Regions from separate parts of the Homo sapiens genome. Here region 1 is linked to region 2. Evidence: fine-mapped expression QTL. A gene starts in region 2. The other region holds a variant in brackets. All regions are shown on one strand. Distances are between the middles of the regions.

Region 1 (9,992 bases), 40 kb after region 2:
TATTTTCTTGTTCTGGACACTAGATGTCACACTAAGTAAAGTTTTAGAGGTTACTCTTTAGAGTAAGGTGTGGCACAGTGTCTAAAATCTTAGCTATGAAAAATTATAGCTCATACATAAATATAAAGCTGAACTTTATATTTATTTTTTGTTTCTTTTTTTTTGTAAAGCTGAACTTTATATTTCTGGTAGAATGCAGTAAAAGGGTACTTTCCCTAACAAAAAATTCAGAAAAAGAATTGTTAATAAGAAAATGTAGTTGGAACAGCAGCCTATTTTGATGTCTGTTAAATAGATAGATCCCATTTACATGCACATAAAATCGTATTTCCTTCTAGTAACAAAGTGATTTTTCTAGAGGCAGCTCGTGTATACATATCTGTGATCGTTTATGTTCTGAGATGGCGAGAAGCCATTCTTCCTGCAAAAGGAACCAGACATTATCCTAACCTGCAAGGGACGGAGAAGGTGAAAGAAGAGATACTGAATATGAGTTTCATTATCTCCTGAAACAGTCTCAGGGAAGGATGTGTGATCATCTTTCTTGAGTGGCTTAAGCAAAGAAGACAGAGAAGATGGTGCCTCCCAGCCTCCTTGACCTCATTTTTTTCCTTGATTTTGGCTCTCAGAAATCTAGACGAGAATCATAGGTTGAGATTTGGAGGCACATTATTTCCTTTTGGAAAATGCATATATATATATTTAATGGCAGGGAAGTTGGACTCAGTATGTAAAAGAGTAAGATATTCTATCCTCTAACTTAAATGTGTTATTGAAACTTCAATAAGTTTCCATTGAAATGCTTGAAATTCATTGGACGCTAGAGATAATTAATTCAAGCCTTAACAGTCGCAATACACCTTTATTTTTTCAAGTAACTCAGTAATTAATTTGAACTGTGTCTAATGATCTGCACATGACTATAAACACGTATTTCTATATGTGATTACAGTTGTAAATAATGTTTACATTTCAGGGTTTTCTAGGTAGTGTATAAGGACAGGTGATTTCCATTGGACATAATTCCTTCTACATTTGTCAAATATCAGTGCCTTGTTAATGCTAAGATCACTAGGATAAATAAGGTTACAACTGCTAAAATGCTACTCTTTAGGTTTGGGAGTCATCCATGTGTTCCCCTTTCTTATTCAGGAAATGGGCAATTGGTTATTTTAACAGTGCCTTCTAAGACTAGGTGGTTCTAGTTAGCTCTCAAATTCTGTTGGGACTTGGGACGTTTTTCCTCATATTACTGCCTTGTGTTTTAGCAACCTGAGGTCACCCAGGTCCCGAGAGAAATCTTTCATTTTCTCCGTGAGTGCTCGGGGGATGGGGAGTTCTGTGATGATGGCAGCCTGTGCTGTTTCTCCTTCAAGAAGTCAGACAGCCACTTTGGACCATCCGTAGGCTATTCATTCCTTCAACAGTTTGACAACTCAGAAAAGCTATAGCTCATCGTGAAGGCCTCAAAGGGAGGAAAATCTCTCCAGAATAAAATGTAGACAAGACTATGTCCGTATCAGGTCAAAGGTTGGGGTTTTTCCCTGTGGGTAGGAAGGTCAGCTCTGTATTTACCAAATAGTTATTGAATAACCGCTCTGCCTGGCTCAGGGAACAAGGGTATTATCCCTGCTTAGATGGAGTAAAACCTGTGCTCTTCGCCTGCCTGACTGCTGTTAAGGTTGATTTATATCATTATTAAGACAACTGTCGGGGCTGTTGGGTGGCCTTCCTGGTTTCTCCACTGACTTGCCTTTTGATTTTTGGATGTCAGCTCCAGGACCTTCACTCTCCATGCCTAAAGGAAGGCCTAATGCTTTAAAGAAACATTCTGAGGCTCAGGTGATTTCAATCCAACCAATATTAATTGATCATCTGCAATGTGCTAAGCCTGCAAGGAATCAAAAAAATGAATGAAGAATATCTTCCATAAGGAGCTTACAAAAGAGTAAAGAGGATGAGACAGGTACACTATACAAAGACTGTGTTGAGCTTAGAATTCCAGGTTGATAGCTAGGTGGTGTGAGAAGCAAAAGCAAACAGTGAAGCATCCGGGAGCACTTTACCTACGTGTATCTCATTTGCACGTCACAATAACTCAATGAGGAAACTGAGTCACAGAGAGGCTAGGTAACTTCTCCAAGGTCATTCAACCAGGCAGGGGTGAAACTGAGCTCATATTGGAACCCACATCTCAGGGAGCAGGGATTCCTCTTTCTTTCAATCAGGATGTACTTCTACAGGCCAGGTGCGATGGCTCACACCTGTAATCCCAGCACTTTGGGAGGCAGAGGTGAGCCAATCACCTGAGGTCAGGAGTTCAAGACAAGCCTGGCCAACACTTAGTGAAACCTAGTCTCCACTAAAGGCACAAAAATTAGCCGGGCGTGGTGGTGTGCATCTGTAATCCCAGCTGCTAGGGAGGCTGAGGCAGGAGAATCACTTGAACTCGGGAGGCGGAGGTTGCAGTGAGCCAAGATTGCACCACTGCACTCCAGCCTGGGTGACAGAGCAAGACTCCATCTTTTAAAAAAAAAAAAAAAGAAAGATGTACTTCTGCAACTTGAAACAGCTTTGTAAGATTTGGTGGAGGATTTGCAGACCGTGGATTTCTAATGTATCCATGAACCATATTTTTATTTCCAACAGGTCATGGATTGACGGCAGTCAAGGAAAAAGCAGGAGCCACTCTACGGATTCATGGTGTAAATTCTGGATCTTCTGAAGGAGCCCAACCAAATACTGAAAACGGAGTCCCTGAAAGTGAGTGATGTGTCTCCTCTGGGTGTTCTTGGACTTTATTACACCATGTGCATAATCAGAGGTTTTCCAAGTTCAGATCAGCGACGTGAACTCTTAAAGGATTTCTTTTTTCTCTTTAGTAACAGATGCAGCCACAGATCAGGGCCCTGCAGAAAGCCCACCCACTTCCCCTTCATCAGCCTCTCGGGGTATGCTGTCTGCCATCACCAATGTGGTTCAAAACACAGTGAGTCGCTGGCTGCTTCCTCTCTTTCCCCTGTATTTCCCAGGGCCTTCTTTTGATATTTCCATTTACCAGTGACCTAGATACATCAGAGAAACGATGGCCTTGCTCAGAACTTTGGATTATGGTTTTTTTTTTAATGTTTTCTGCTACAAAGTAGACGTAACCTTGGATTCAAAATAATAAGGGCAAAATGAAATATATTTTATGTTTAAAAGAAGGGAGCTGTTTGGAAGGAACATTTTTCAGTCTGATTTAACAGTGTCCTTTCCAGCTGCGGCAAGGACAGCCTCTGGTTGAGGGGAGAGAGAACTCTTTATCAGAGCTGGGACAGCTGTTTTTCCTAAATGCTCTGCTTATCTTATCCCTGAGTTTGAAAAAGCATTAAACCGTTTAAATAAAAAGTACCCGTTACAAGACAGGAAAAACAGCCCAAATATGTTTCTGAAGTGTTTCCAGAGACCAGCGTTCTTCCCCCATCCCTACCTCTTCATTCCCACCCTTCCTCCTCCTTACACCACCCTAAGTGTATCCCCCTAGATCCCTGCCTACCTCTTAGAAGAAGCTCCATATTAGCAGCAAAACATTGGTGAATAATGAAAAAAGGGGAGGCACCTCAACTGAGATAAGGCAGGTAGCTGGTCATCAGGGTCAGGGAGCAAAGATTTATTTTGTTTTTTCTTTTGTTTTTTTGAGATGGAGTCTCACTCTTGTCACCTAGGCTGGCGTGCAGTGGTGCAATCTCGGCTCACTGCAACCTCCGCATCCCTGATTCAAGTGATTCTCCCACCTCAGCCTCCCAAGTAGCTGGGATTACAGGTGCCCACCACCACACCCAGCTAATTTTTGTGTTTTTAGTAGAGATGGGGTTTCACCACGTTGGCCAGGCTTGTCTTGAACTCTTGACCTCAGGTGATCCTCCTGCCTCGGCCTCCCAAAGTGCTGAGATTACAGGTGTGAAGGTGTATTTCTTACTATGTAAACTAACTAGTTTTTCTAAAAATATGGCTCGTGTCTCATTTAGTCATTCATTCATTCATTCATTCATTAAAAGAAAAACAACAACACAAACATGATTAGCCCTCACTATGTTCCAGTATCTATGCTAGATCTTGGATATATGCTGGCAAACAAGAGGGCACAATATCCCAGAGGACTGAGGCGACTGAACAAATAAACACAATGTAATTCGGGAAGAGGTGAGGGCTGCGGTCAAACATGAGAGGATCTCACCCAGACCTTGGGGTCAGGACATGCCAGAAATATAGAAAATGACTGGTCTTCTCCTTGCTATTTGAGGACCTCTAGACTGGGGTGGGGGAAGTAAGGAGGAGCAGCAAATCTGTCTTAGGAGTCAAGTAGCAATACAAGTCAACCACCCCCGTGGGGGGTTTGTAGGATGGGAGATGGATGGAGCTCTGTCAGTACCTCTGGTATAAGAAATGAATTCACGGCCTATCTGAGCTACCAAGAGGGCACTATGAGTTTGTCTTCAGCAGCCTCACATTCCTTTCTGTGTTCTCTCCAACCTTCTTGACCCCTTTTTCCCAAGTTCCAGACACTACCCCTCCAAGTCTATCCTTAACACAAATCCCTGTGTCCTTTCTTCCACCATTTTATTCTCAATAAAATAATTTTTCATAGGATGTTAGCAGGCACTAAGTCAAATTACACAGAAGTGTGAATTGCTGCTGTCCCATCATCCCCCCGAAGTGTGCGCACTGAAAACTGATTTACAGCATGATTACTGGTTGGCTCCCAAATCTAAAAACAAAGTCTAAATACCCAAGATGAAAATAAAGTATATTAATTCTATGAAATTAAATACTTCTATTTAAATGATAATTATGAAGATTGGAAAATGCATATCAGTAATAATATCATAATAAAATACAATTTATATCATTTTTATATATGGTGGGGAAAAACACAGATGTATGCATATTATAATTGCAGTTATACAGTTGGAGTGTAAGTATGAAAGAGTTGCAAAGACATGTATGCAGTTCTGTTCACTTGAATAGTTTATGTGTGAGTAAGTCTGGGTTATTTTAATTTTTTAAAAAAAGCAACAATGACTGACAAAGGGATTTGCAGGAGGATAGCTATATAATACACCAGTTTCTAAAGCCAGAAGTACAAGGAAATCAACCTGTCTCATTTCATGGATATACTAATTATAGGCAGTTATTGCTAGTTTCTGAGAGTATGCAAGAACCATCTGAAACAGCCTGAGGGTCTTACCCTCCAGGGCCCTAGATTAAAGAATTCCCTAAATTAGCAGGACTGTTTGACATTTTAATAGACTGCTCCAAGCAACTCTGTTACTTGGGTTAAAAAAATTTTTAAACAGAAACAGCAATTTATTTTATGTTAATTTTATGTCTTAGCAATTTATTTTATGTTAATTTTATGTCTTAGATACACATCCATTCATACACAGAGAGCCAGTAAAATTAATCCCTTTGTGGGATTAATTTTATTTTATGTGCTTTGGTTTTTTTCTAAGCATCAGTCTTTAATAACATTGTATGTCCTACAAATTATATAACATATGCTTTTCCAAGGAAACGAGAATAGGATTAAATGGATGATAAATCTCCTGATGAGAAAAAATTGTGACTTTATATTGATTTTAATATTTGAAGATAGTGCCAGTTACCTAGGAGTTGCTGACTGCTGCGAAACAGCAAAACCTAAACATCTAATCTCATGCAGTTATCTCATCTGCAGGGTAAAAGTGTCTTAACTGGAGGCCTTGATGCGTTGGAATTCATCGGCAAGAAAACCATGAATGTCCTTGCAGAAAGTGACCCGGGCTTTAAGCGGACCAAGACGCTCATGGAGAGAACTGTTTCCTTGTCTCAGGTTGGATTATATACGTTTGCAATTTTTTCTTTCAGTCAATAAAGTAAATAAATTTTTTATTTATCTTTTTGAATAGCTCATTTAAAGCATGTGATTCAAATCAAATGACACCAAAGAGCAGAGAGAGAAAACTGAGCTTCTAATACCCCCATTTCCCCAGTCACTTAATTCCTCAGAGGAGACAACCAGTTAACAGTTCCTTAAGGATTCTATCAGAGACCGCAGAGAGATATGGATATAGATCTATAGATGCAGCTATACATAAATATACAGATGTAAAAGTACATATGTATGCATGTGGATAGACATGCACATAAATACACACATATTTTTTCAACCCAGTGGTAACATACTAAACACACTCTTGTTCCTTGCTTAATTC[A/G]CTTAATATTATTTCTTGAAGATGATCCATTTATGTCATGGTATGCATCCCATCTCTACCACTTAGTAGCTGAGTGACCTTGGGCAAGTTACTTAGCCCCTCTGTGCCTCAGCTTACTCATCTGTACACTGGGGATAATTTAAATACCTACCAATAACTTTGTTGTGAGGATACGCTGAGTTAGAATAGAACCCAGCTCTTAGTAAGCATTCAGAAATGTTAGTTGTTGTCATTGCCGTTATTATGTGTCGGTATAATAGGTGGAAATGGTATCTCATTGGAATTTTAAATTCTGTTTCTCTTGATATGTGCAAGGATGGTCTTCTCCTCTCACACTTCCAGCACTAAAGTTTTCCAGCCCTTCTTGCAAAACATAAAACAAAGAATTCAATCTGTCTTTGCTTACTTACAATAGTTAAGAAAATTGGAAATAATATTAGTCTTGTTTTCCAAATATGACTCTAATATTAAACTTACTTTTCCAGATGGAACATGCCTAGCTTACCCCACAATCCAGGCATGCCCCAGTCCACCTCCTCCACGAGAGACTGATACACCAGGTCTCTGTGCTTTCCTGAAATCAGAAGCAGCTGATGCAGCAGTGGATTTTGTAAACGTCACAGGCAGGACTTGGTACTAGGAACCCATGAAGGTTGCCTTCATGAACAGCTATCACTGAGAATATGTTCATGGCAACCCCTAGAAGCTTTTGTTTTAGGCTATTTCTTCTTGTCTCTTCTGGAATAACCCAAGTATGAGCACTCCGATGTTATAGTCCAGGGAGGGACTTTGCAGGATCATCTAGACCATCACCCTGCTGCTCCTTGAAAAAGAAAATAGATGGCTGGGCACAGTGGCTCATGCCGGTAATCCCAGCACTTTGAGAGGCCGAGGCGGGCAGATCACCTGAGGTCAGGAGTTCGAGACCAGCCTGGCCAAGATGGTGAAACCCTGTCTTTACTAAAAATACAAAAAAAAAAATTAGCCGGATGTGGTGGCGAGCACCTGTAATCCCAGCTACTCGGGAGGCTGAGGCAGGGGAATTGCTTGAACCAGGGAGGTGGTGATTACAGTGAGCCGAGATTGTGCCACTGCACTCTAGCCTGGGCAATAAAGCAGGACTGCATCTCAAAAAAAAAAAAGAAGAGAAAGGAAAATAGATTAGTATTAGTTAGGTAATTAGCACTAGATGTCATGAAAGAACAACCACCCCTAAGTATCAGTGTGGCTTAGAACAAAAAGGTTTACCTTTCGCTCTCACAAAGTGCAGCATGAATATTCCTGCTCACACAGGAGCTCGTCCCAGGGGGCTCTCATGGCTAGCACACTTCTGAGCCCACATCTTCTGGCCTCATCATCTTGAAATGCCTTACTTCCAGCCTCACAGAGAGGGGATGTGGAAGGCAATATCTGGTATTTCAGAAAGTGACGAGCGAGTGCCATGGGGAAAAAGACAAAGTAGAACAGGAAGAGGTGATGAGGAATCAGAAATGTGGGTGTGAGGGGCAGGCTGAGTGTTAAGTAGGATAGTGAGGGGGCCTTGGGCAGATGATGACATGTGAGCAAATCCTTGAAGGAGATGAGAGCATTGGCCATGCAGGAACCTGAGTAAAGCTCATTCCAGGCCAAGGGAGAACTCACGCAAAGGCCCTGAGTCAGGAGTGTCTGGCATGAACACAGAACAGCAGGATGCCCGTGATGGAGAGGAGTGGGCTCCGGGCGAGAGCTGTTGAGGAGGACATCAGAGTGGTGATAGGGAGTAGGTGATAGCAGATCATGGCAGACATTCGTAAGGACCTTGGGTTTGACTGTTAGTGAAATGGGGAAACCATTGCAGCATTTTGAGAAAAGAAGTGACAGAATCTGATTTGTGCTTTAACAGGACCACTCTGGTTCCTGGGTAGAAAATTGGCTGGGAGGACCAAGGGCAGGGAGACTGGTTAGAGTGACTATCAGTCTGTGCCCTCCCAGAAACAGACACCAAGATGGGCTTAAACATGCAAGGATTTCATTAGGGGAAGTGCTTGTGTGAGAGAAAATGGGGAGGGAGCCCAGGAAGGCTGGGAGAACCATTAGACCAGGATGCCGGTCCCACCCCAGTGAAGAGAAGAGGGTGAGAAAAATGGGTGAAAGTGTCCCAGACTGCAGTGCGGCATGGGAAAGGCTGGGCGAAGCCATGGGAAAGCCCTTCAGCCAAAGGCTGCTGACAAAGGAGACCTCATCTTCCAGGAACAGGTCTGCCTTAGTGCCCTGCTGCACCAGTGATTGACAGGGAAGAGCTGTGGGAGGCTGAAGGCTGGATTTCGAAGTCCAGCATTTATGCTCCCAGGAGTAGGAGGGAGGTCTGCAGGTTGCACTGTCACACCCTCCACTGGAGGCAATTGCACTTTCAATTGCTGTTATCTAAACAAGAGATAATGGTGGCCCTGTGCAGCATGGAGGCCTTGTAGGTAGTGAGGAATGGCTGATTCTGGCTATAATTTGAAGATAGATCCAGATCGCTTGTTGGAATGAATGTGAGCTGTGAGATAAAAGCAGTTGTCAGGGATGGCTCCAAGGTCTTTCGGACAACTGGAAGGATGAAGCTCACATATTTTTCCTTTACACACTAAAGAAATATATAACTATGGAAACTAGAAGCGTGCACGCGTGCACTACCTACATTTCTCACGTATTTTTATCCTAGTGGCACAGGGAATACTCTTTCTTTTTCTTTCTTTCTTCTTTTTTTTTTTCTTTTTTTTTCTTTTTTCTTTTTTTTTTTTTTTTTGAGACAGAGCCCTCACTCTGTCGCCCAGGATGGAGTGCAGTGGCGCGATCTTGACTCACTGCAACCTCCGCCTCCTGGGTTCAAGCAATTCCCCTGCCTCAGCCTCCTGAGTAGCTGGGATTACAGTGTGCACCACCACGCCCGGCTAATTTTTGTATTTTTAGTAGAGACGGGGTTTCACCATGTTGGCCAGGCTGGTCCCGAACTCCTGACCTCAAGTGATCCACCCTATTTGGCCTTGAAAAGTGCTGAGAGTACAGGCATGAGCCACCGCACCCAGCCAAGCGCAGGGAATACTCTTTAAATAACACGGGGACAGGGGGTCCTTGGATTCCACACATGGAAGTCTCCATAGCTTCTCTGTGTCAGGAATTCTTCCAGGCCAGGATCATTCCCTGCTATTGAAACCCACTTCCCTTTCTTCTCTAGTGGGAAAATAGAACCAGCCTCCGTTGTCAAGCTGGTTATCCCTCAGGCAGCTTTAATTTCACTCCCCAGTTGTGTTTTGTTTGTTTGTTTGTTTTGAGATGGAGTCTCACTCTGTCACCCAGGCTGGAGTGCAATGGCGCAATCTTGGCTCACTGCAACCTCCTCCTCTTGGCTTCAAGTGATTCTCCTGCCTCCCTCCTGAATAGCTGGGATTACAGGTGCCCGCCACCATGCCCAGCTAATTTTTTGAATTTTTAGTAGAGACAGGGTTTCATCATATTGGCCAGGCTGGTCTTGAACTCCTGACCTAGTGATCGGCCCACCTTGGCCTCCCAAAGTGCTGGGATTACAGGCGTGAGCCACCGCGCCTGGCCTACTCCCCAGTTTTGAGTGAGTCCACATCTTTCCAGAGTGACCCTTTCCCTTTCTCTTCAATTTCATCCCTTCTTTTTTCTCTCCCGAAGCCCACATTCGGAGGTGGAAGCTGGTGTAGAGAAAGGAAGTGATTTCAGTGTCACTTTGTTATTTTATTTTACCACCACCAAGTCCTGAGATCA
Region 2 (9,992 bases):
ATCTCTAATTGTTCTCCTCTCATTCTCTTAAATGTACTTCAGTCAGGTTTCCTTCCCCACCGGTCAGAAGAAATAGCTCTTTTCAAGGTCACCAATGATCACCACATTGCCAAATCCACGGTCAATTCTCAATTTTTAGCTTCTTTGAACTATTAGCAGCGTTTAACACAGTTGAAAGATCCTGAAATGTTTTCTTGCCTGACTTCCTAGACCCCATATCCCACTCCCCACTCTCCCTTCCCTGAATTTCCTGCTAACTCATTGGCATTCCTTCCCAGTCTCCTTCTGGGTCCTCTTTATATCTCTGGCATGGAATACCCAAGACTTAGTCTTGGACCACATCTCTAACTCCATGCACTCTCATCCTGGTCCTTCAAACCAGGATGAAGTCCCAGACTTCCCTGAACTTCAGACTCACATTCAATAGCCTGCTAAATGCTTGCTAAACCATTACTGTTGCAAGCCAAATGCCTGAATCTTTACTACCTCTAACTCCAAACCTGCCCCCTCTTGCATCCTTCCTCATATCAATAAATGATATTTCTACTCTTCCAGTAGTGCAGACTAAAATCCTTGGAGTGATTAATGATTAATTTCTCTTTTGCTCAAACTCTACATTCAATCTATAGGCAAATTTTGTTGGATTTTTCTTTGAAATATGTCCATAAGCAAACACCTCTCATGTCCCCCACTACTCCCATGGTGGTCAAAAGCATCATCATCTTTCACCTGGATAACTGCAATGGCATCCTAACAGGTATGCCAGCCTCCATCCTTCTCTCCCCTCCCACCTTCACCCAATTCCAATATGACTAGAGTCAGATACTAGAATCATACTCAAAAGCCATAAGGGTGCCAGTCTCACTCAAAGTATAAACCAAAATCCCTCTGCCCATCTCTCAGCCTCCACTACCTCTATGGCCTCATTTTCTTCTACTCTTCCCCATCCTCCCTCTGCTCCAGCCACACTGGCCACCTTACCTTTCTGTGAATGCATCATCCATGCTCCCAAACTGCCTGAGACTGTCTACAGATATGGCCACTGTTCATTTCCCTACTTCCTTAAAGTCTACATTGCAATGCCACTTTATCAGTAAGGACTTCCTTGACCACAGTTGGTCCTACCCATCATTCCCTAAACCCTGTAGATTCTATAGCCTGCTTTACTCCACCACCTCATATAGACCCTCTAGTTAGGGTCTATCTCCCTTTCTGTGGAGTGTAAGTTCTTGAATACCAGGAGTTTGCTTTGCTTCTTTTGTACTCCAAGCACCTACAGCCGTATTTGGTACACAGTGCATGCTTTCAGAAAGGTTATGTTGAATAAATGGTTGACCCATAATGAAGGGCGACTCAGCAATGTCTAGTAAAGGGGAACCAGCTATTCCATTTTTTTCCTAGATACTAAAAAATATATTCAAAGGTGGCAATTGTAGCATTATATGTAATTGAGTGAAATATGAAGCACAATAAAGTAGATCAATCGGGAAATAAATTGTGGCATATTCATGCCCTCCTATGAAGACTTTGAAATGAATGTGCTAGAGCTACATGTGTGAATATGAATGATTCTCAAAAATATAATGCAAGTTAACAAGTGTACAGGATGTCCTTAATATTCTAAAACATTGAAAAACAATTATACGTGCATTTGTGGGTGAGGACATATGCAGCAAACATTTAGAAATATGAGTGAGGGGGGCTGTGCATGGTGGCTCACACCTGTAGTCCCAGTACTTTAGGAGGCTGAGGCGGGAGGATTGCTTAAAGCCAGGAGTTTGAGACCAGCCTGGGCAACACAGCAAGACCACGACTCTACAAAAAAATTTAAAAATTTGCTGGGTGCAGTGGCACCCTGTGATCCTAGCTCCTTGTGAGGCTGAGGCAGGAGGATTGCTGGAGCCCAGGAGTCTGAGGCCGCACTGAGCCGTCATCACACCACTGCACTCCAGCCTAGGTGACAGAGTAAGACCTCATTCCTAAATAAGAAAGAAAGAAATATGGGTGGGAGGGATATACAACCACCTCAAGAAAATGGCTACCTGCAGAGATGGTGGACAATGGAAGGGATAGGGTTTCAAACATATCCGTAACATTTTTTTCTTTGCAAAGAAAATTCTAAAATAAATACTGCAAAAAATTTTGTTAAATCTAGATATCATCATAGTATTTCCTATATTTTTTACACAAATAAGTATTTGTCATATTATTCTTTACTTTTCTATATATTTTAAATACTCCAGAAAATTTTTAAATGAACTTAAAATGTTTTACATTGCAAATAAATAAAATATCTGAAATAAAATCTGGTAGTCCTGGAAGCAGCTACATGAGTAAAAGGGACAAATTTGCAGTGGGCAAAACAAAAAACAAACTTGTTGCCAGGATAGTTTGCTTTATTTTCTTTATTGGATAGGTGTGGTTTGGGTCAAAGGAGAAGAGGAACTCAGCCCTTTAAAAAGAGAACATCTGATTGGGCTGTTACGGCACAGCAGGGAAGGGAAGGCAGGTTAGCAAAGGTGCTTGCTGTCTCTGGGCAGGAGCAGAAGTCCCAGGCACAGACGTCTGTGTATATGCTACACCAAAACACACCTGTTGCAACTGGAACATAATTTGATAACACTCGCAAAGCCAGAACTGGAAGGGACTGTGCCGAGCAATGCTCTTTATTTTAGAGGTGGAAAAACTGAGTTACAGAAGCCACGTGTTAGTTAAGGTTCAAAGTCTCGCTCAATTCAAAAAGGCTATTGATCTCAATTTAAAGCAGTTTCCACCCACTCTCACATTAAGATAACTTTCTGGTTTTTCTATGAATTTAAAAATGACAGGCTGGGTGTGGTGGCTCACGCCTGTAATCCCAACACTTTGGGAGGCCGAGGTGGGCAGATCACTTGAGGTCAGGAGTTCGAGACCAGCCTTGCCACCATGGCAAAACCCTGTCTCTACTGAAAACACAAAAATTAGCCGGGTGTGGTGGCACGCACCTGTAATCCCAGCTACTCAAGAGGCTGAGGCAGAAGAATCGCTTGAACCCAGGAGATGGAGATGGTGCCACTGCACTGCAGCCTAGGCCACAGATCAAGACTCTGTCCTCCTAAAAAATAAAATAAAATAAATATTCAGTAGCTTAAAAAATTATTAATATAAAAATATTTAATAAAAATATTAAATAAGAAATATAGCCAGGCACGGTGGCTCATGCCTGTAATCCCAGCACTTTGGGAGGCCGAGGTGGGTGGATCACCTGAGGTCAGGAGTTCGAGACCAGCCTGGCCAACATGGTGAAACCCCGTCTCTACTAAAAAATACAAAAATTAGCCGGGTGTGGTGGCACGCACCTGTAATCCCAGCTACTCAAGAGGCTGAGGCAGGAGAATTGCTTGAACCCAGTAAGCAGAGGCTGCAGTGAGCTGAGATCACGCCACTGCTTTCCAGCCTGGACGACAGAGCAAGACTCCATCTCAAAAAAATGAATTAATAAATTAATTAATATATATATGGAAGAAACTGGAATATAAGGAGCAAACTAATTGTCAATAGGAGAATGATTGAATGAAATATAATTACAAACATATTGCAATATATAAGACAAGTCTTAGAAGAGTGGTTTTGGTTGATATGTATTGACCAAGAAAGATGATTATAATATATAATAAATAGGGGGAAATTTACAAAATACGTCAACATCTCGCCATTTTTATAAAAAAGCAAACAAAAAGCTGTTTATGCATACATGTATTTATATAAGCTTAGAAAAACTATGGTAGGATCCACACACTATAAAAAATGGTAGTGATATTGAAAGGGAGAGACTAGGGCTATTTTTTCTTTAACTTTGAATTTATAATTCTTCAAAAAGAAGAAGGGATGGAGTGAGAGAGGAGAAAATCTGCCTTAAACACATCGCTCAGAAAGAATCACTATTTTTAAATTGTATTTCCTCCGACTTTTATAGAAAATACAAAATTGTTTACAAAACTAGTTAATACTATAAACACTGCGCTTCCTCCGCATCTGAGTTCATATTAAGCCATATTTGAGGAAGGCCTTCATATGTGGCCTTCCCTCCATGTCAACGAATCCTCATTTTTAAGGGCTACAACATATTCGATGTCTGAAGTTACTGTAGCTTACTTCACCAATCTTACTGGGGGACATTGAGATTGTCTCCGGCTTCCCCCCGCAGAAACAACTACAACAAACATCCTTGTACATACATATTTGCCCATTTGACTGCCTACTTAGGACAAATTCACAAATGTGGAATTCCTAGGCCAAAGCTAATACATCGGAGTTTTAACCCACAGCTCCAAACTGGCCTTCTGGAAAGTGGGTTTTCGTTGTTTGTTTGGGGTTTGTTTGTTTTAAATCTATCACACTCCCACCGACAGGGCAAGGGAGTGCTGCTTAACGCAGAATCAGGAGATCAAACTTTAGCTGAATTTGAGCGACCTCTTCCCAGTGACACGGCGGGGGGTTTTCCAAGCCCTTTTAAGGAAAGGAAAGGGATCTGGCGAACCCCGAGACCCACCCGCCCTGGGCTGGAGAGGCGGCGCGCTCTGGCTTTCCGCGCTGGCACAGGGGTGGGACAAGCCAAGTTTCCAGGAGACTCGCCCAGCGCGGGCCCGGCCCTCGCAGCGTGGGGGTGGCCGGGCGTCCCCGCGGCGCTCCTCGTGGGGCGGGGCGCAGGCGGGGCGGGGCCCCCTCTCCAGCCGCCCGCCCTCCGGCCGCGTCCCCGCCGGCCCTGCAGACGTGGCGGGGCGGGACCCGCTGGGCACTCCCGCGCGTACTCGGCCGCCTGAGCGGTAAGAGCCCCGGGCACTCGGTCCCCATCCCCTTCCCCGGGGGGCGGGCGAGCGCGGGGGCGGCTGCCCGGGGGTGGTGGGAACACCATACCTTGGCGCCTCGTCCGGGACCCACGAATCCTGCCCTCTGCGTTAGTGAGAAGCAGTGGTCAGGGAGGACCCGGCTCTGGGGTGAGGGTCTGGGGCGGCGCGGCCGAGGGACCTGCGTGGGTGCGGGCGTGTGAGTGTGTGTGTGTGAGTGTGTGTCGCTCCGGGTCCACGCTCATGCACACACCCACACGCCCACACTCAGGGTCTGCCCCCTCGGCCTGCGTGAACCTCCGCGGAGCCTGCCTGGATCTCCCAAAGTATCCAGTCCTGGCACCAAGCAAGTCTGGAAAAGTGCCCCCAATGGCTCGGGGCCAAGTCAGAGGTGGGCTGCAGGGTCCCCCAGCCCGGGCACGAAGGGAGCAGGTCCCTGTAAGACAGAGGCCTCGTCCCAGGGTGCGCCTGCCCTCGGCCTTGGCACAGGGAGCTCAGGCCTTGACCTCCCCGCTCCCCTCGCCTTACTCCTCCCCCAACAGCCGACCCACGCCCTGCCTGCTCTTCCAGTCCAGCCAACACTCTAAGCAGGCACCGCCTCCACTCGCAGCCCCCGGGATGGGTCCCACTCCCTACCGCAGATCCCCAGGCCCCCTCCACCCAGTCGGCTAGCCCTCGCCTCTGCCATCCGGTGAGTATTTCCAGGCACCTCAGACCAGGCGCCTGAACGTCACTGCCTTTTCTTAAGTAGGAAGACATCTCTCTATGGGCTGTGAGAGCATTACCTATGCCCTACTGATCCCATCATTTCCCATCCTAAACATCTTGAAGGACACAGGCAGGTGGCTTCTTAAATCAGTGTGCTCTGAACTCCCTGTGACCTCAGCCAACCTGTGACAACTGAGAATGAGACAGGCTCTATCCTCAGAGCCTCTTTTTGCCCTCTCTGCAGCCTAGTGGCTCCTTCCCTACCCCACCCATAGGCCTGCGTCCCCGCCCTCCTTTCTTCCATCAAGCCTGAGCTTGGGAAAGAATCTGATAAACTTCTTACATTGTAACCTTTAAGTGAAGGAATGAGACGTTAGGGATGGATTTGAGGCACAAGTGAGACAGTGCAGAAGGAATTTGAGGGTTGGAGGGGGCTTTCTTGAATCTGAGCGATTCAGACCATAAAAGTAAACTTGTCTTTGTTTATTTGACCAGGCTTACATCAAACATGGTTTCTCTTTTATTAATATCAAACACAATGTATTTCAATTCAGTAAATATCTGAGGGACAGAAACCAACCTAGGTGCTGTTGGTCACAGTCTTGGAGGACAGAATGGCAGAAGTAAATACTCCATAAATACATGGAATAGAAATCTGTGCAAAGTGCCAAAAACATAGAAGAGGTAGCAGTTATTTCATTGGAAGCAGTGGGGCAGATTAAGGAAAAATTCAGAATGAAAGGTAACATTAGACACTGGGTGTCTAGAGGAATAGGAGTTTGCCAGGCAGCTGGAGGAAGGGCAGCACCGGGGCAGAGGAACCAGCGTAAGCAAAGGCAGGGAGATGTGAAGAGTTATGGGGAATGGAGAAAAGACTGGTGAGGCAGGAGTGGAGGATACTGAGAGTTGCAAGAGGTGGAGAGAGATTGGAGCTGGATTATGATGGGAAGTGTGAAGATATTTACACCTAATGGTTTTTGAACAGGAGAGCAAATAGGTCCAAAAATGCCTGGCAGCCTCACAGAGAATAGGCTGGAGCCTGGGTACGTAGACTTGTCAAGCTTTATACAAACTCATACAAACTGCTACAACCTGATTAAGAGCCTCTCATCCAGAGTTTTTATTCCTGGTCCTTCGCTGACTGGCACTGTTTTTGTTTTTTTTTTTTAACTGGGGGAGATGACCTCACACAGGATATCATGCTAACCAAATTTTTATGCTGCCAAGTCAGGCCATTTTTTTTAAAAAAATCCATCCACTGTCACTATTTCATAAAATGAAAGACATTTTAATACCAAGAAAAAGCACAAAGGCTAAACTTGAAAGATGAAGGCAGTCCTTTACATTTAATAAATTTAGATTTATGAAAAACTTGCAATCTTGTCCTCATTTTTCTCTATCATCACAGACTTGCCCCAGTCCTGCAGGTGGAGTTTGGAAAAAAAAGCATCCAGATCAGTTTGTCCATCCTAGCTTTACAGAGGAGCAGGTGTAAGCACAGTGAGGATCAAGTTGTGTGCCCACAAAGGGATACTGGGACCAGAGGCCACATCCCTTGACGCCTGCAGGACACAACTCTTTCCACCTCAGAATACCATCGCTCCCACCTCTCATCATTCCTCCATGCAGCCTCATGTCCTGGCCTCTCAGACACCTGTCCTGAATCACTACAGTCCATCGCTGATGCTTGGACATTTGCACATGCTCTCATCCCACCAGGCCTGAATCACCACATCAAAGACACTTTCAAGATTCTCCCTTGCACAGGGTCAGTCTAGTTCAGGCACATCTGTCCTTGATTTGCTGTGCTGTTTTGCATCACTTTTTAACTGTTTTGTGTTAGCTCCTCAAACAGATGATTGATTTCTGAAGGATAGTGACCATGTCTTCTGTTTTATACTTATTTTTGGAGCTGTGATGTTGCTGCTTAAATACCTTGCATAGTTCTGGGAGCATTTTAGGTGATGAATGAATTTACTCACGAAAAACTAACTTATTCCCAGCCCACAAAGGCTTCTTTATATGCCACCCTTCCTCTCCTTAGAGTTTCCTGAAGCAGCCTCCTTGTTTCTGTGGGTTGAGTCTCCCTAGCCTCCAGTCCACGAGACATGGCTACAGTGATCAGTGTTCCTAACCATAAATCAGGAAAGGTTTCTAAGTCTGGCTTATGGAACACCCAGACGGAGATGGAAACCGTCCCAGGAAACACAGTGCTTGTCATGACTGTAATCCTGGTGGACTCCAGCAGCCCCTGCTCAGAAACAGTTCTGTATTTCAAACACACAGTTTCTAGTGGTTTCATACAAAAGGGTATAGTCTGAAAAATGATTACATTTCCCCCATCATGATAGCATCCACAGTCGATAAAGTTCTACCAGAACAACCAAACAAAAAATAATTTTTTTTCGTTTTGATTTGGGGAAAATTAGACCTGTAACAAGTAGAGATAAATATGGATTAGAGATACACACAATTAGAAATTGAATTAGAGCTGATCTTGCATGGCTTTCTTTTTTTTCTTTCTTTTTTTTTTTTTTTTTTTTTGCGACAGGGTCTCACACTGTCACCCAGGCTGGAGTGCAGTGGCATGATCCTGGCTCACTGTAGCCTCTGCCTTCCAGGTTCAAGCAATTCTCATGCCTCAGCCTCCAGAGTAGCTGGGATTACAGGCACATGCCACCATGCCCAGCTAATTTTTTTGTATTTTTAGTAGAGACAGGATTTCACTCTGCTGGGCAGGCTGGTCTGGAACTCCTGGCCTCAAGTGATCTGTCTGCCTTGGCCTCCCAAAGTGCTGGGATGTGAGCCACTATGCCTGACCGATGACCATTTTTAAATTTAACAGATGTAAAGATCTAGTATTAATAAAATTTATAAATTATCCATAAATATTTTAAACAATAATCTATAAATATTTTAAATAATAATCCATAAATATTTTTTGACAATAGTCCATAAATATGTTTTAACAATGCCTGTTTAACATCTTACAGCTGAGTTTCTGGGGTATTTCTGAAGGGATGGTTTGTGTTGGTTGAATGCAGAACAGCCACAGAGAGGAGTTTTACTGCAGTACTTTTTCTACATTTGGGATAAACTGACCTAAGGTAATTTGGCCATCAGAGATAGGTAAGGGCTCTAGGTTTCCTCCTCTGCAACTTCCCTACCAAGAGTTAAATTACCATGAATCCAAGTTCACTGATGGAATTCTGCCATAAACCCACACATGTATTAGCAAACAGGCTTAGTTAACCAGTCTGTTCTTATAAGCTCAAGGAAGTCCTAGCTCACTGTCCTTTTAGGCCTGTGTTCTAGAGGCAGGACTCAACTAAGCTTCTAGTCACCTTCAGGCTTTGGAGTCCTGCATTCAGCTAGAGAACCTAGAAGAACGCTACTCCAAAGGGTAAGTCAGCTGCTGGATTCAGTGCAATCTCATGTCTTGGGTATAGAAGCAGAGAAGGCACCTGTACGTTATTTCTTGTCGATCCACATACCTGAGGCATCTTTCATGTCACCAGTGAAAAATTATTTCTCATATCCCTTATGCTAATTAGCATACCCTGGAGTGCCCATCAGAGAAGACGGTAGATGAACCCTCTAAAAAGAGGTGGTCACCTCATTACGGATTTTTAAGTGCTTACTAAAGACCCCTGGATAGTATATTCCTGAATAAGGCACTTCAAATGTCATCCAGCCACCCTTAGGGCACAAATTAAAACTAAGTAACATGCACGTGTCACATAGTATATGCTGAACTATTTTAGGATACTTCATGAACAAGATAACAACACATGAGGGCAAGGCTTGTACATTTAGGCATCCATAATGGTTTTTATTTACCCATAAGTGTTTATCACAGCCAGATTTACTCTGATGTTCCTGCTTATAGAAAACTGAAATATTTTGGGACTTCCTAATAATCCAGATTAATAATAAGGATTTTCAAATTACCTTACAAAGAAATAAAAATATCAGACAATGTCTACCATCTACCGATTTAAAAAAATGAGAATAAAAGTGATGGCAAGGTATCATTTATTCATGAACCCATTCTCCTCATTGTTGTGTCCATACGACTCATGTGAGGATAATAAATTAAGACAGGGAAATCTTTAGGCCATGGCAATCAAGCAAAGTCCTAGGCCATGGGTAAGCAGACATTTTCGGAAACCGGCCAGATAGTAAATATTTTAGGCTTTGTGACTTTGCAGCCCATATGGCCTGTGTTGCAATGACTCAGCTCCGCTATTGTAGTGCCAGAGAAACCATGACGGTCCCATATGTAAACAAAGGGTGTATCTCTGGTCCAATAAAACTGTGTTTACCAAAACAGGCAGAGGACAAGAGTTGGCCAGCAGACTGGTTTGCCAACACCCTGTCCTAGGCTAGTCCTGATTCAGAGAGAGGTTTTCACAAAGATTTTGTAAACTTCCAAATGACAACAGCCTTTTTAGCAGC

Which allele goes with the higher level. Positions count from the first base shown, and alleles are read on the strand shown. Sizes are in standard deviations (SD) of each study's normalised expression.
With allele G in place of A in region 1, the expression in skin of the gene that starts at base 4,777 in region 2 is higher (moderate effect, 0.57 SD a copy in TwinsUK).

What was found.
Region 1: its variant is fine-mapped to the expression of FAM114A1 in skin (TwinsUK, PIP 0.95).

Annotation. Positions count from the first base shown.
Region 1 is chr4:38,902,873-38,912,864 of GRCh38, forward strand. FAM114A1 (family with sequence similarity 114 member A1) reads left to right here. Exons shown (of 15, transcript NM_138389.4): 5 at 2,650-2,763; 6 at 2,883-2,989; 7 at 5,720-5,854. Among named protein-coding and RNA genes, the nearest start is that of MIR574, 40 kb to the left of the region's middle. RefSeq lists an enhancer at 1,153-1,322. The variant A/G (reference allele first, on the strand shown) is at 6,237.
Region 2 is chr4:38,863,030-38,873,021 of GRCh38, forward strand. It overlaps FAM114A1 (family with sequence similarity 114 member A1), which reads left to right and starts at 4,777. Exons shown (of 15, transcript NM_138389.4): 1 at 4,777-4,805; 2 at 5,369-5,517. MIR574 (microRNA 574) reads left to right here and starts at 5,003; the gene lies at 5,003-5,098. It also overlaps a transcript of TLR6 not described here. RefSeq lists silencers at 4,541-5,020, 5,071-5,120 and an enhancer at 5,328-5,911.